4 linked regions of the Homo sapiens genome follow. The protein of the gene in region 3 interacts with the protein of the main gene of each other region in a biochemical or structural test. Each region holds a gene or a part of one and is shown on either strand. Other genes may lie near its edges.

Region 1 (3,500 bases), on a different chromosome or scaffold from region 3:
GGTCTCAGAGGATGTTCTCCTTGGAGGCACAGCTCATCAATCTCTTCTTGAATGTTGCAAACAATGGGCCAGGAACAGAGAGGGATGGAGGAAATGAAGAGTCATTAGCCACAATAAGTGTCCTTATGAACAGCTCTGATGTCATTTATCTCCACCTTCCAAGAATCCTGGATGGGCTTGCATAGGCAAGTGACAAATATTGTTAATTAAGTCTTTGAAGATAATGGCAAATGTCACTAAGAAAGATTTGTGTTGAATATTACATCAACTCAGCGTTCTTTCCTGGCCACGATGGCCAATGTGAGGTGACATGAGGTTAGGACAGTCATGCCTGTGCTTGGATGAAGCGGAACTCTGTTCTGAGTATGCAGAAGTTAGATTAGAGATTCTCCAAAAACCTTTTTCCAGATGGATGGCAAGAGTGAGGCAGTGGCCCCCAATTCTGGAATAAACCGGTGTTCTTGGCTGGTGTGAGACCATGTATTAGACTCTAAAGACGGTCAGAAGCAGTAACCACAACACTCTTTGTTCTACAATTCTGAGTGTGCTGATAATATGGGCAGGAGTTAGAAGGGAACTATTTTTCTGACTTTTTCTCCCAGGCTGTCCCTGCAATATCTACCATTTCATGAAAGAAACAATCTTAAACTAAGTTATACAGAGTACTTGATTCATGTTTCCTCTCTTTTTTATCATCCTGATTCTACCTTTATGGCAGAGAGAATAAGCCATCTCATGATTGCCTTGGACCAACCATCCCAGGCCAGTAGAGAAAGATACACCTATTTCCCCAGGAGCAGAGAGGTTGTCCATGGTGGGGGCTGGGTGGTGAAACTGCACAACATGGCCAGTTGAATCTTCCTTTAAAAAGGTCCTATCATCAAGTGGGGCACATAGCATGATTAGAGGCCAGGGGTTGCCTTTATTCACTTCTGCTTCCTCCTCTGCCTAATCCCTGTACCTGAGGGAGCCTTACAGATCCCCCAAATCTGGGTGATGGAGCAATGAACCATATAGGCCCATGTTCCCCTGTATTATCTCATCCTATACCTACTTTTTATATTTGTCAATAAAAAGTCTATGGCTGTCTTGTTTTTTGCAATCCATCCTTATGAATGCTCTACTACTAAAAACATAGAACAACCTTTATGGGACAATTGGAAATTTGAACACTAACTCTACATTTAATATTAAGGAAATATTAAACTTCTATTTAGGAGTGAGAATGGTATTGTGAAAATATTAGGTTTGTCTAAGAGTGCATGGCTTTTAGATCTACGTAATAAATATTTTCAGATTGAATGACATGATGTCTAGGATTTGCTTCATAATAACATGGGAGGGATGGCAGCCAGAGGACATATGGATGAAACAAGATTGGGCTTGAGCTGATAATCTTTGAAGCTGGGTGACGAGTTCACTGTACTGGGTTTGGTTTTTGGTTTGTTAGTTGTGTGTATGTTAAAAATGTCCCATAATAAAAGCTTTTTTAAAAAGAATTAAAATTGGTTATTTTAAATTAATATTAGAAAATTGTATTTCTCAAAAATATTTTATGTGCAATTATCATGATTTATAATGTTAAATGGAATAGGAAGATCTAAAACATATAAGGTACAAAGTACTGCATGTAAAGTACTGCATATACACATTTGCTTTTATATGTACATGTAAGTGGAAGAAGAAATGATGCAAATGTAAATTATGGTTGCCCCTGACTGGTGAGAATACATATTATTTTTCTTTATTCATTGTTACATTTTTGTACCTCCCAAATTTTCTAGAGAGAAAATAAACTATATTTAAAATTTTATAGTTATTTTTATATATAAGCCATGCTTGTGACATATTATTAGATTTTTTAAAAAAGATACAGAACTATTTGTGAAAAAGAACCTCAATTCTGTTTTAAAATGTGTGCACATGGTAAGTGTGTGAATGTATCTAAAATGAACAGCATCAAAAAAAGAAACAAATCTATATTCTAGATTTTCATAGACAAAAATAAATAAATATATAAATAAATAAAATGAACAGCATCAGTTGTTAATTGTGGCTATCTCTAGATGGTGACGTTATTGGACAATTTTTAGTTTATTTGCCTCTCTGTGTGTTTCTTCAATTAATAAGTATAATATTATAATCAGAAAAATGTGGCATAAAAAATAAAGCTAGATTTATTATACTTCTTTATAAGGGTTAGCTATATAGGGCAATATAACATACAAGTAACTACATAATATATACTTACAAAACACATATGTAAGTCCAAAGGAATTTTAAATTCTCAAAGTATGTTAAGCTTTTAAACGATGATATAAAATCTTTTCAATAGCCAATATTATGTGATGATGCTCTTGCCTTCATATACTTAATTCCTTAATAATCATGTTTCATTTTCTGTTCAACTCCAGGTATATCCATGCCAATACCAGTCTTTGGGCTACAGGACGATTCGAAGGTCTTTAAGGAGGGGAGTTGCTTACTCGCCGATGATAACTTTGTCCTGATCGGCTCTTTTGTGTCATTTTTCATTCCCTTAACCATCATGGTGATCACCTACTTTCTAACTATCAAGTCACTCCAGAAAGAAGCTACTTTGTGTGTAAGTGATCTTGGCACACGGGCCAAATTAGCTTCTTTCAGCTTCCTCCCTCAGAGTTCTTTGTCTTCAGAAAAGCTCTTCCAGCGGTCGATCCATAGGGAGCCAGGGTCCTACACAGGCAGGAGGACTATGCAGTCCATCAGCAATGAGCAAAAGGCATGCAAGGTGCTGGGCATCGTCTTCTTCCTGTTTGTGGTGATGTGGTGCCCTTTCTTCATCACAAACATCATGGCCGTCATCTGCAAAGAGTCCTGCAATGAGGATGTCATTGGGGCCCTGCTCAATGTGTTTGTTTGGATCGGTTATCTCTCTTCAGCAGTCAACCCACTAGTCTACACACTGTTCAACAAGACCTATAGGTCAGCCTTTTCACGGTATATTCAGTGTCAGTACAAGGAAAACAAAAAACCATTGCAGTTAATTTTAGTGAACACAATACCGGCTTTGGCCTACAAGTCTAGCCAACTTCAAATGGGACAAAAAAAGAATTCAAAGCAAGATGCCAAGACAACAGATAATGACTGCTCAATGGTTGCTCTAGGAAAGCAGCATTCTGAAGAGGCTTCTAAAGACAATAGCGACGGAGTGAATGAAAAGGTGAGCTGTGTGTGATAGGCTAGTTGCCGTGGCAACTGTGGAAGGCACACTGAGCAAGTTTTCACCTATCTGGAAAAAAAAAAATATGAGATTGGAAAAAATTAGACAAGTCTAGTGGAACCAACGATCATATCTGTATGCCTCATTTTATTCTGTCAATGAAAAGCGGGGTTCAATGCTACAAAATGTGTGCTTGGAAAATGTTCTGACAGCATTTCAGCTGTGAGCTTTCTGATACTTATTTATAACATTGTAAATGATATGTCTTTAAAATGATTCACTTTTATTGTATAATTAT
Region 2 (4,159 bases), on a different chromosome or scaffold from region 3:
ATTCATCCAACAACAGACTAATATCCAGAATATGCATGAAATTGAACAACTCAACAATAAAAAAGCAAAATCTCATTAACAAGTGGTCAAAGAACATGAACAGATGATTCTCAAAAGAAGATATAAATAGCCAACTGGTATATAAAAAATGCTCAGCATCACTAATCATCAAAGAAATGCAAATTGAAACCACAATGAGATATTATCTTACCCCAGTTAGAATAGCTATTACTAAAAAGACAAAAACAAAACAAAAACAAAAACAAAAACAGATGCTGGCAAGGAGATGCAGAAGAGGGAACTCATCTACACTATTGGAGAAAATGTAAATTAGTACAACCCCTATGGGAAAGAGTATGGATATTTCTCAAAAATCTAAAAATGATAAATGTAGTCCAGTAATCCTACTATTGGGTATCTATTCAAAGAAAAGGAAATCAGTATACTAAAGGGATACCTGCACTCACATGCTTACCATAACACTATTTGCAATAGGAAAGATATAGAATCAACTTGTGTCCATCAATAGAAGAATAGATAAAGAAAATGTGATATATATACACAACAGAATAGTACTCAGCCATAAAAAAAGAATAAAATCATATCATTTGCAGCAACATGGATGAAACTGGAGGCCATTATGTTAAGTGAAACAACTCAGGCACAGAAAGACGAATATCATATGTTCTCACTCATATGTGGGAGCTAAAATCATTGATATCATAAAGGTAGAGAGCTGACATTATAAAAGTACTAGAGGATGGGAAGGTGGGTGGGTAGGAGAGGGAATAAAGAGAGGTAGGTTAGTGGGTATAAACATATAGTTAGATAAAAGATAGAAGTTCAATCGTTTGACAGCACAGTTACTCTAGTTAGCAACAATGTATTGGATATTTCAATGTAGCTAGAAGAGAGGACTTGAATTGTTCCCAATATATAGAAGTGACAATAATCAAAGTGGTGGACACCTCAAAAAGCCTGACTTGATCATTACACATTCTAAGCATATAACAAAATACCACATGTACCTCATAAATATGTAAACTAATACGTATCAATTAAAAAAAGAGAAACATAGAAGAGAAAAAGGTAAACGAATAGGTTGTCTGACATTAAATTGTATAATATTTTCGGAGTCCAGCACATGTAAGCTCCATTAGAGTTGGAACCTCCTTGGTGTATTCATGTTGGTGTGCCAGTGCCTATAATAGGGTACAGGTAAGGTAGGCAATTAATAAGTAGTTGTGCAATGTTGAGTGAGTACCATTTCTCTTGATGAGTGACAAAAAGGTAAGAGATTTTCAACGGAGTGATTTTTTAAAATAGGAAATTTCCTTATTTGGTCAAATAACTATTTAGTGTTTTCCATCCTTAATTGTTGGCCTGCAATTGTGGGCCTCAACTCTGCAGTCATTCTTTGTGTGCCAACATAGTGCTCTGAAAATCTTCATTAATTATTAACTTTTTTTTTTACCATTCTCTGGTATTCCTGTTAATCAATGATTATGATGACAATAGCTAAAAGTGCCCAACTTTTAGGGAGAATGCCAAGAAATCTTAGTGTGACAGGGAATCACATTTTATCTAAAAGTATTCTTAGAGGCCTTGGGAAATACTTCGTTGATAAAGAAAGAAAGGTAAGAGAAAAAACAAGATTAAACTTAGACATAGAAACATAAAAATAGAATGAGAATTTTAGAGTTGGAAGGAAGCATGAAGAGCACATTCCATAGCAACAGCAGCTGATGCTGCCTGTGTCCTTAGAGGTTATCCAGGCCTTTGTTTTACAGATGAGAAAATATACACAACAGTGAAATTGGAACTCAGAGTTTAAGTGATCTACCTAAGTTTACAAAATTAGCTTGTCCCAAAACTGAAATGAGAATTAGAATATCCTGTTCTCCTTAAGGAAAATCCATTTGCAACACCTTCCACCCAGCTTTACTTTTCCACATTATACTGTGCCAGTGAAATGTCTTTCTCATAGGTAAGCTCTCACGACACAAAGTGTTCATCCAGCAGGAAGGAGCACTTTGAGTTGAGGAGGGTCTTAATTTATCAGGAAAGAGTTAGACTATTTCTGGAATGAAATGAATGCAGTGTTGAAAAAAAATGTTAGTAAGAAAAAATTCAACTATAGTCTATTTTAAACAAAGCATTAAATAATAGATCTGTGTTTAAAACAAAATACATGTGTGTGATAGAAATACATGTGGGTTATGTATGCTTGTAGTGAAAAATAGGCCACAATGTCTTTTCAAGTGACTTCAGGCATTGTTTTTTAAAGGCAAAATCTAAATTAATATATTAATGAAAAGCATGCATATCCTCTGCACTTGGAGGTTGTTTCATTATACATAGAGGGCTGTTATAGCTCTCTTTTAAAGAAGGATTGCAAGATTAACCATATGCAACTTAAAAATACATATGAGTTTATTTTTTTAAATGATTTAGATATTAATACAAGTTAACAGTTTATATGTCCTAGTCTCATGACAATCTTGAAATCTAAACGTGTTTTTTGAGACTTACTCACCCAACACACTCCTGGATTTGTGGTCGTCTGGGAGAGTCTTCTGAGGACAACATTTTTTCATGAATAGCAAACAAACCTCCAATTATGATATGTCCCGGAGAAGTGGCAGCCACAAAGTCATCAGGGGTCTGGCAAGGCTGTGAAGTAGCAAGAATAATCACAAAGCAGGTAATTAGTATAATTAAGAATGCCATGTTTCTATCTCATTTGCTCAGTTCATGTGAGTTCTTAGGAATCATTAAGTGCACGGAGTGCCAGCAAGATTCCTATTTCACCTGTAAACACCTTATAAGGTATAGGACAGTGTCAAAGGCCAGAAACACTCAGTATTCAGATACTTGATGATAGTCAAAACAGTTATTTCACCAATAAGAACACAGGCTTTTTAACACTCCAGTGTTAGAGATAATGTGATAGCAGTCATGTGATGTAAAAGCTGATAGAATTATAAACACAAGTTTCACTGTAATGGTACTTTTTTACTCTAGTGATATGTCAAGGGCCCTGAGTCACGTTGGCATTTCTTTTGAAGCAGAATGTAGAACTTTCAAGAAGAAGCAGTTTGGAAAAGTTTTTCCACTTTAGAAATAGACAGTTCTGCATTTTAAAAAGGTATCACATTCAAGGCACAAATAATTCAATATAGTTTATCAGGTATTTAGAAAAAACCATCCTGCTTTTATTTTTCCTGAAAAGTTCTGTTTAAAAAATGAAATTCAGTTAAATTTAGGTATTTGTCACTTCCACTTTCCCTGTGTTAGAAATATGTAGCTTTTGTGAAGATGGGTAAAACTAAAAACAAGATGAAACTTGTCCGATACAGTATTTTGCTTTGAACAAGAAAGGTCTGTTCATAGATCATTGACATTTCCACTATTGTGGGTGCTATATTTTAATAAATTTGGGACTGATTTCAGGCTACATATTCTTAAGTACTTAGGATTCTCTGAACTAACATAATTTGTTGGGTGTCTTTTGGAATTTAACAGAGGATAGAGAAACCTCAATAATGTAGTCACCATTAAGAAAAAGTTTAAAGTTTTAAAATGTATTTAATAAAATCAGTCTTTTAAAAATGTTTTATTAAAAATGAATATCTCATGGGCAAGCAGTTTCAAATCCAATACATACAGTTTGTTTGATGGGTAGCAGATACATTTTTTTTTTTTTTTGAGATAGAGTCTCATTCTGTTGCCCAGGCTGGAGTGCAGTGGCAGATACATTTAAAGAAATTTCAAAAAATAAAAGAGTACAATGGCCACTGTGGCATTTTTTCATTATCCAAATTAGCATTAGATTCCATAGTCCTATGGGGTTATGACAACTGAGGAGTGGAGAAGTCACAGCTCATCATGCAGCTTCAAATGTTTTATTAAGTCTTACCATTTTTACTAATGGCAGAATTTTCTATTAGAATGAAAACCGGTTAACTTCAGTTGCCCAGAAAGTTTAACAAACATACATGAGTCTGAAGACTCTTGAGATGTTTAGCAATTACATTTTACTCATCTTAATCTTATTATTTATTGGTATATATGTGTGTGTATGGTATCGGATGGATTTATATTTTCATGAATTTAGTTATTTTGCTCAGATAACCTCAAAGGTCTTATGTAATTACAA
Region 3 (3,500 bases):
CTTTGCCCTTGTATCTGCTCATCCTCCTCTCTCCCCTCTCCAGGAGAGACGTTTCAGAGCCCTTGCCTCCTTCACCATGCCGGTTGCCGCCACCAACTCTGAAACTGGTAAGAAGGGGGTGAGGATGTTAGCTTATTTCAGTGGTTCAGAGGGTGCCAGGCGAGGACTTAGGGGTGGGCACTTGCACAGCTCCAGATAAGAACCAACTGGCTCCACTGCTGTCCACCCTACCACTCAGCCATTCCTTCTGGCAGCTGCTGTGGCCATCTCCTCTGTGTGGGTTCCTGTGCTGGAACGGAGAAGAGAAAGAATAAGACCCATACCTGCTCCAGTGTAGGGCTGGAGCACAACTCACCTCCGTGGAGGGCAGGGGATGCATGCTCCAGAGGTGACCCGTACTATTGCTGGAGGGCAGTGGCATAGGACCAGGCCTTCAGGAGGTGGCCCCGGAGCTGGGCCTTGGAGAATGGCTTGGGGGTGGAGGGATTACAGCAGCACAGCCTGGGGCTGAGAAGTCCATAATCGCTGCCCACTAGGCCAGCATGTGCCAGAGGTGGACAGGGGGTACTGGGGACCAGGAAGCTGTGAGTGAAGGAACAAGAATACCAGGTTAGGATACCTGGACGTGGCTCTGTAGGAGGCATTAGGACAAGGGAGTGGGCCACTCAGACAAACTAGCAAAGCCTCAGTGGCAAACTGCTTAACCTCTTGGAGCTCGCATTTCTTCTTCTGTAAAGAGGCTGCTGTGAGACGCAAAGGCTGTAATGGGAGAGCACATTACTTTTAGGAATAGTCATAATTATTATGCTGCTGTTGCTGCCGCTGCCACCAAGTTGTTGTTGTTGTTTTTGAGACAAGTTCTGGCTCTTTAGCCTAGGCTGGAGTGCAGTGGCGCAAGCTTGGCTCACTGCAACCTCTGCCTACCAGCCTCAAGTCATTCTCCCACCTCAGCCTCCCAAGTAGCTGGGACTACAGGTGTGCACCACCATGCCCAGCTAATTTTTGTATTTTTCGTAAAGACAAAAATGTTGCCCATGCTGGTCTCAAACTCCTGAGCTCAAGTACTCCACCCGCCTCGACCTCCCAAACTACTGGGATTACAGGTGTGAACCACTGTGCCTGGCCTGAGTTGTTATTTTGGCATTAACCCTGTGTCCTTGAAACAGTCACCTCCTTTTGAAGACCTGAGATTTCCCTAAGATGAGATGATGGGACAAGATCAGTGTTCTTAACTTTTTTCTTTTTCTTTTTTTTTTTTTTTGAGATGGAGTCTCCCTCTGTTGCCCAGGCTGGAGGGCAGTGGTGGGATCTCGGCTCACTGCAACCTTCACCTCCCAGGTTCAAGTGATTCTCCTGCCTCAGCCTCCCAAGTAGCTGGGATTACAGGCACCTGCTATCATGCCCAGCTAATTTTTGTATTTTTGTAGAGACTGGGTTTCACCATGTTGGCCAGGCTGTCCTGACCTCAGGTGATCCACCTGCCTTGGCCTCCCAAAGTGCTGGGATTACAGGCATGAGCCACCACACCTGGCCTGTTCTTAATTTTATTGGTCCTGAGTCACTTAGAATCTGGTGACAGCAGTGAGCCCTCATCGTAGACATATACATCCATGCACAAAAGGTATATTCTACTCTAGGGGATCATGGATTCCCGTAGTGCACGCAGGACCCCAGAAGGTTAAGTTCCCTGTGCTAGAGGCCCTCTGAGGCCCGGGCAGCTGGGAACTGCTATGGTTCTGCTCTGAGTTGTCTGAACTTCCCCCTGCCTGGATGCCTCCCTCCCATGCAGCTCCTTCCCTTGCTCTAGGCCCCACTACTGCCTCTGCCAGAGGTTCCAGGGCTGCCACTTTGGGTAGAATGATTCCTCTGTGCCTCCTCTCCGAGAAAGTGAAGGGAGTGAGCCAGGGCCTAAACTGTGGTACACTTGTCCAGGAAAGGCCTCTTCTCCTTGCAGTGGAGGGATGGCACCAATGTCCCCAGCTTCTGCAGCATCAGAGGGCTCAGTCCCCCATCTCCTGTCCAGCCTGCTGGGCTCCCTGGGGTCTCCCTGCCTCTTTCAGCCTGCCTAGGCCCCACTGTAAGCTGCTTAGGCATTAATTAAACCCACCCCTGAGCCTGTGCTTAATGGCCTCTCCAGCCGGGACTGCCCAGTAAACCCACCAATAGTGCCTGACTGGGGCGTAGGAGGAGGAGCAAGCCCAGCAATTTGGCTTCGTTGTTGCAGACCACTTGATGGGGGCGTGGTGGGGGAGGATGGGGGACAGGGAGTGGAGCCTTGGGGTGTGGCGGTGGGTTCTGCTTCCTCAAAGGACTCCTGGGGCTCCTGCTCCCCTTCATGTTGTTCGAGGGGCTGCTCCTGGCTTCTCATATTCAAAGGAAGAAGTACAAAGTGTTTTTCTTCCTTCAGGCAGCCTCTGTCCTATCCTGAGCTACATTAGCTCCCAGCTTCAAAAATCTAATGGTGGATTCTGCCCCTTATTATCTGGTGGTCATTATACTTCCCACAGGATAGAGAGACAGCTGTGTCCCTGCCTCTGAGTTCAGGCTCCCCTTCCCTCCTCCTCCCCTGGGAGATCCCTGCCTTGGACTCTGCAAAGGGCAAAGCTAATAAGATCCTTTTTCCGCCCTTCCCCATGGGTCAGTATGGTTGAAGGGAGGGAAAGGGTATGGGTGTATTCCTCTTGCAGGGAGACCCCATATCTACTTTGGGTAGAGTCAGGGGCCCTTTTCCTGAGACTTGGGAGATAAATGGACAGTGGCACTGGGCTGAGAACTTAGAGATCCTGAACCTGGCATCTCCTGACCTGCAGCCTTGCTCCCTCTTCCCCTGTCACCAGATTCCCTCCCTTTTTTGGATCAAGGCTGGGATATGTGGCTGCTTTCAGGTGGAGCTGTCCCTTTAAATCTCTCCTCCATCCCTGGGTTACTGTCCTGGTGTGTAATTCTACTGTCATGGCAACCAGGGGTGCAATGCGACCTGGTGCCACTCCTCAGGGAATGTCTGAGTGGAGGCTGCAGTACCCTGATGGTGGCCTCTTGGGCACAAGATCTCAGAGGAATGGGGTCACCGGAGCGGAGCTGAGTCCTTCCCTTCTGCCCACACTTTTCCCTGTGTGCAAATGTGCCCTCATTTTTCCTTTCTGGGGAACTGAGTTCCAAGATGCCTGACTTGCTTCCTGGGCATCATCCCCTTCATTAAGAGGAAGAACTCATGGGAGATGGGGGAGGGGAAGAAGCTGCTGTGAGGCGAGGGGTAAGCAGGGCTGGGGCACCATCCCTACCCACAGCGATGCCACCTCCCCCACGTACCCTGCCTCCCAGTGGCTGACCAAGGGTGGGTAGGGGGAGGCGTCTGAGGCTTGAGGTATTTGCCCCATGCCCAAGTGAGGCTGCCTCCCGGTGGAGGGCTGAGTCGTTCTTGGGGACTTCCTTAGACTGAGGGACTATTGTAAAGGAAACAGGGCCTGGAGAGGGGACTGAGAGCAGAGGTCAGAGGGCAT
Region 4 (4,173 bases), on a different chromosome or scaffold from region 3:
AAAATAGACATTTAATATAGTAATGTTTTTAGCCACAAAGAAGAGTGAAGGCAATTTTGACGTGGGAGAAGAATAAGTTCTCTCCCTTAGTGTTTGATACGGTGACTATATTGGGCTAAGATAATGGTTAGGAGAGAGAGAAGAGAAAAGGGGAGAGAGATTGGGTTCTAAATGCACGAGAAGAAAGAAATGAGGGCAGTTCAGAACAATAACCTGTGAATTTTTTCACCACTTACATACCAAGCAAATTGCATTTCCTTCTACACTGTCTGGTTCTATTCCAATGTGTTTTATTTAAAAGTTTTATCTTTCCCAATGAAAGTTTAAGTTCCTTGGAATCTGGGTCCAAGTATCTTCCACAGAAACATACTTCTCTCGCTAGTTTATACTCTCTGTAGGCACGTACTTGGCTTTCTTGCTCACTGCTGAATGCTGGTGCGTAGCACCATGACTGGCACAGAGTAGATGTTCAATAAGTATTTGTTGTATCTGTGAGAGAATGTGTTAAAATAACAAAACTCAAACATAATAGTGCAGCGACTATGCCTTGATGTGTGTGTGTTTGGGATTCAGCACATTTGTAGAGGTAAAGCAGTTGGTTTTTTAAAAAATTAGTGCCATTCAGGATCACTTGTTAAATGGATATTGTTTAAAGGACTTAATTAATTAATGCTGGGGATACTGTTAAGAAATCATTCTAGAAACTAGAATAAATATTGCCAAAGTGAAACACTTTGGTTTTGATACAAATTATTGCCTTAGTTTCAAGATGTAAAACAAACAAAATCTTTGATGGGATTAGTAGAATTTATTTGAGTTTAATTCAACTTTTTGTTTTACATATAAAAATGTGTGCCTGTATGTTATACATCTGTACATATATTTCCACATATATCTATACCTATTACGTATAGCTACATATAGATACCCATTTATATGTTTAATCTCCTAAGTCTTACATCTTAGTTTGCAATCGTGGGATTATTTTCCAGATCATAGAATTGTTTGTTATTTTTACTAGGTTGTTTTCATGATTAAAATTCCGTGTCTCCCCAGGTTTCCATGTATCAGCAGTGCCCCAGAAAGTGTTTCCCTTCCTGAGACTCTAGGGAAGCCTTGGAATGCAAATAACTTGAAAAGAGAGCCTGGCCAAAAAAAGATTTTTGAGCCTTGGTAGGGTTAGTGAAGCAGGTTTTTAGTACAAACACAACTCAAAGTATGTGTGTTATTAAAAGTAGCTATTTTCATGGAAGTCTTTTGGTACTATTTGTTTTGGCTAGAGAAGTGAAAAGCTTTCTTTTAACCATGTGACCATTATTTTGCAAGATCATAACAAACAATTCTAATATCTTTAATCTCACTAAAGAGTCACTAAAGTTATTTGATGTACCTTTTGAAATAGAAAACCAACAACTAAATCTTCTCTAACACCATGATTTTCTAATCTGTATTAAAGCGTTCCAGGTATTTTTGTAATGCAATGGATTTCAATTATGTTGTTCATTTTCAGCACTTACTTCAAAAGAATGATGCTTTACAATTTTGTAGTTAATTTAACATATTTTTTTGTTTGCTTGAAAGGGTAGAAGTAAGACATATCAAGATTTAAAACATAAATAGCTTGGAACACCCTGAAGAGCAACATGGGAGAAACTGAGAAAAGAATTGAAACCCATAGAATAAGATGTCTTTCCAAGTTGAAGGTATGGAATTTTTGTATGTGGATATATGTGCATGTACACTAGTTTTTAAAATACGACAGTCCTGGTAAAATTGCTCCTATCTGCATGAAGTGATCTAATATTAATGCCATATTGCCTGTTCTATTGATAATTTCTTGCTTTAAAGAAGTTGGTTTTATAACTGAGGGTGTGTCTACACAGGATTATTGATTCAGGCAAGTTAGTCCTAAATGGCTTTGAGAGACTTAAATGGAAGACAGGATCCTAAAAATTTCCAGGCACACATACTGTGGCAGGATTTATTTTTCTGGATCAAAGGCCATGCTCACTCTTGCAGGGTTTCTAACCCAGAGAAATGTGGGAGTCACTCTCCGAAAATGGCTCATTGCACAGAAATGCTTTGTTGATTTGTATGCAATTACCCAGCAAAACAAATGTTTTCTTTAAGCTTTGGCAACATAACAATAATTTCCTGTAAGAAAAATGGCCATTTTGTCAGCTGTTCTGATTTTTTTTTCTATTTCAGAGAAAATTCTGTTTTCTAGCTTCAAAGTCATTTATATTCAAACAAATTTGAATTTATGATAAACCAAGGGATCTGGACATTTGTCCTGATTCTATAGCTAGTGCCTGCAAGTGGTTTCAAAACTAAGACACTGTCACTCATTTTCTCCCTATCAGAAGTTTGTTTTCCATTTATATGTGTGTTGGGGAAATTTAAACATGTATACAAAATTGGAGAATTATGATATAAATCTAAAAAAAATAGACTTGCCTGAAATGGTATGTTAATTAAGAAAAACTTTTTGTGCTTCAGTTTTCTCATCTGAAAAGGGTAATAGCAACATTCCCACCTTATAGGATTCTTTTATGTTTGAAACAATGACTGGAATATTGTAAACTTTCAATAAATATTAGCTATTAATATTAAAAGCATTTGTGGAGAAAAGTCAAGTGGTATTTATAAACAAGAGGTCTTTAATTTTTGATTGCTTTGGAGTTTAGCAAGGTTAGATATTAATGTGGATGTTAAGACAAAATGCTGTAAGCACAAGTTTATCAGGTAAAAGTGAGAGGCAATTGCTTAATAGCAAGTTAGGTTTCTCTGTTTCTCTGAACTTAGAAATATACTCATTAAGCAAAATTCATTAGGAAGCATGAAAGAACTATTTTTAACAAATTTGCTTTAAACTTTGTTGTTGAAATAAGTTGAAAGGGCATTATTGCTAGAAGCTAGTAGGACCAGCTTTATAAATACAGAGATTATTTAGCACTAGACATGAGTCAGAATAGCCACTGATTTCTTTCACTCTGCGAATAAAACCAAACTAGTTAGGCAACCCATGTGTTTTAGGGGAAAAGCAATGAGGTCATGATCCATCTAATTTCTTTTCTTAACATGTAAAGTAGAATAAATTATTTTTCCAAATTTGATTTGTACTTGATTTAGTAGGACTTGCTTTTAAATATAAAATCTGATTTATAAAACTAGGTGAAAATAGTTTGCTCTTAAGAATACACTCTGAGAAGGTTTATAGTGGGAAGAGAGAATATCCACAAATGGTATTCAATATAAAAAATAGCTAGAGATATGGCCATACTATGCTGTAGTCAATCAGTTTTGATTCATATTAAGAATGCTATTCAAATTTCTAGGTCCTTTTCACATAAATTTCTATTTAGGTCTCACAAAAATAATTGATAAATTTTGGCTTAGATGTATTGTGTGGTGTGAATGTGTCCCATCCAAATTCCCATGTTGAAATCCTAATTTCTAAGGTGATGGCAGTAGGAAGTGGGGCCTTCGAGAGGTGATTAGGTCACAAAGGTAAAGCCTTTATGAATGGGTTCAGTGGCTTTATAATAGAGGACTAAGAGAGATTCACTGCATTTTCTGCCATGTGAAGACACAGTGAGAAAGATGGTAGTTTATGAATCAGTATATACAGCCTCTAAGCCACAAATAAAATTCAACCCTCCCACCCCCTGCTCCCAGCACTGAATGGACCTCCTCTTGGTCAAGAGCCTTCCAAAGTTAGTCTAAAAAACAAGTTTAGGCTGTTATGGGAAGGAGGTGTTGGACATGCCTCTTTATACCCTCCTCTCTTTTGGAATTCAGGAATAACCAACCATCATTAACATCAACACAGACCTTAAGTCTGATAAGAAACATTTATATCCATTCTCTATGAAGCCTGCGTATCTAGAGGCTTTATCTGCATGATAAAACCTTGGTCTCCACAAGCCCTGATTGTAAACAGGAAATAATTTTTTATTATTGATAATAACTCTTCCAACCAATTGCCAATCAGAACATTTTAAAATCTACCTGTGACCTGCAAGTTCCTGCTTTGAGTTATCTTGACCTTCCCAATTGAACCAATGTAAATCTTACATGTATTGATTGATGCATTATGTCTTCCTAAAATATATAAGAGCAAGCTGTACTCCACCTTGAACACATGTTTTTAGGACTTCTCTGAGGCTATAC

The links.
Region 1: the proteins of MPP2 (region 3) and HTR2A interact in a test that uses a peptide from one of them, tested with the Homo sapiens proteins (one large-scale study listed by IntAct).
Region 2: the proteins of MPP2 (region 3) and GPRC6A interact in a test that uses a peptide from one of them, tested with the Homo sapiens proteins (one large-scale study listed by IntAct).
Region 4: the proteins of MPP2 (region 3) and SLCO1A2 interact in a test that uses a peptide from one of them, tested with the Homo sapiens proteins (one large-scale study listed by IntAct).

The regions. Positions count from the first base shown.
Region 1 is NC_000013.11:46,834,554-46,838,053, reverse strand, and holds part of HTR2A (5-hydroxytryptamine receptor 2A), read left to right. Parts: intron 1-2,414; coding exon 2,415-3,217; 3' UTR 3,218-3,500. UniProt on the Homo sapiens protein: G-protein coupled receptor for 5-hydroxytryptamine (serotonin).
Region 2 is NC_000006.12:116,826,284-116,830,442, forward strand, and holds the start of GPRC6A (G-protein coupled receptor family C group 6 member A isoform 1 precursor), read right to left. Parts: upstream 2,801-4,159; 5' UTR 2,731-2,800; coding exon 2,537-2,730; intron 1-2,536. UniProt on the Homo sapiens protein: Receptor activated by multiple ligands, including osteocalcin (BGLAP), basic amino acids, and various cations. Activated by amino acids with a preference for basic amino acids such as L-Lys, L-Arg and L-ornithine but also by small and polar amino acids.
Region 3 is NC_000017.11:43,901,037-43,904,536, reverse strand, and holds part of MPP2 (MAGUK p55 subfamily member 2), read left to right. Parts: intron 1-43; coding exon of another isoform or gene 44-76; coding exon 77-107; intron 108-2,972; exon of another isoform or gene 2,973-3,253; intron 3,254-3,500. UniProt on the Homo sapiens protein: Postsynaptic MAGUK scaffold protein that links CADM1 cell adhesion molecules to core components of the postsynaptic density. In CA1 pyramidal neurons, required for synaptic KCNN2-containing channel function and long-term potentiation expression.
Region 4 is NC_000012.12:21,332,118-21,336,290, reverse strand, and holds the start of SLCO1A2 (solute carrier organic anion transporter family member 1A2), read left to right. Parts: upstream 1-1,373; 5' UTR 1,374-1,464; exon of another isoform or gene 1,465-1,581; 5' UTR 1,582-1,643; coding exon 1,644-1,703; intron 1,704-4,173. UniProt on the Homo sapiens protein: Na(+)-independent transporter that mediates the cellular uptake of a broad range of organic anions such as the endogenous bile salts cholate and deoxycholate, either in their unconjugated or conjugated forms (taurocholate and glycocholate), at the plasmam membrane.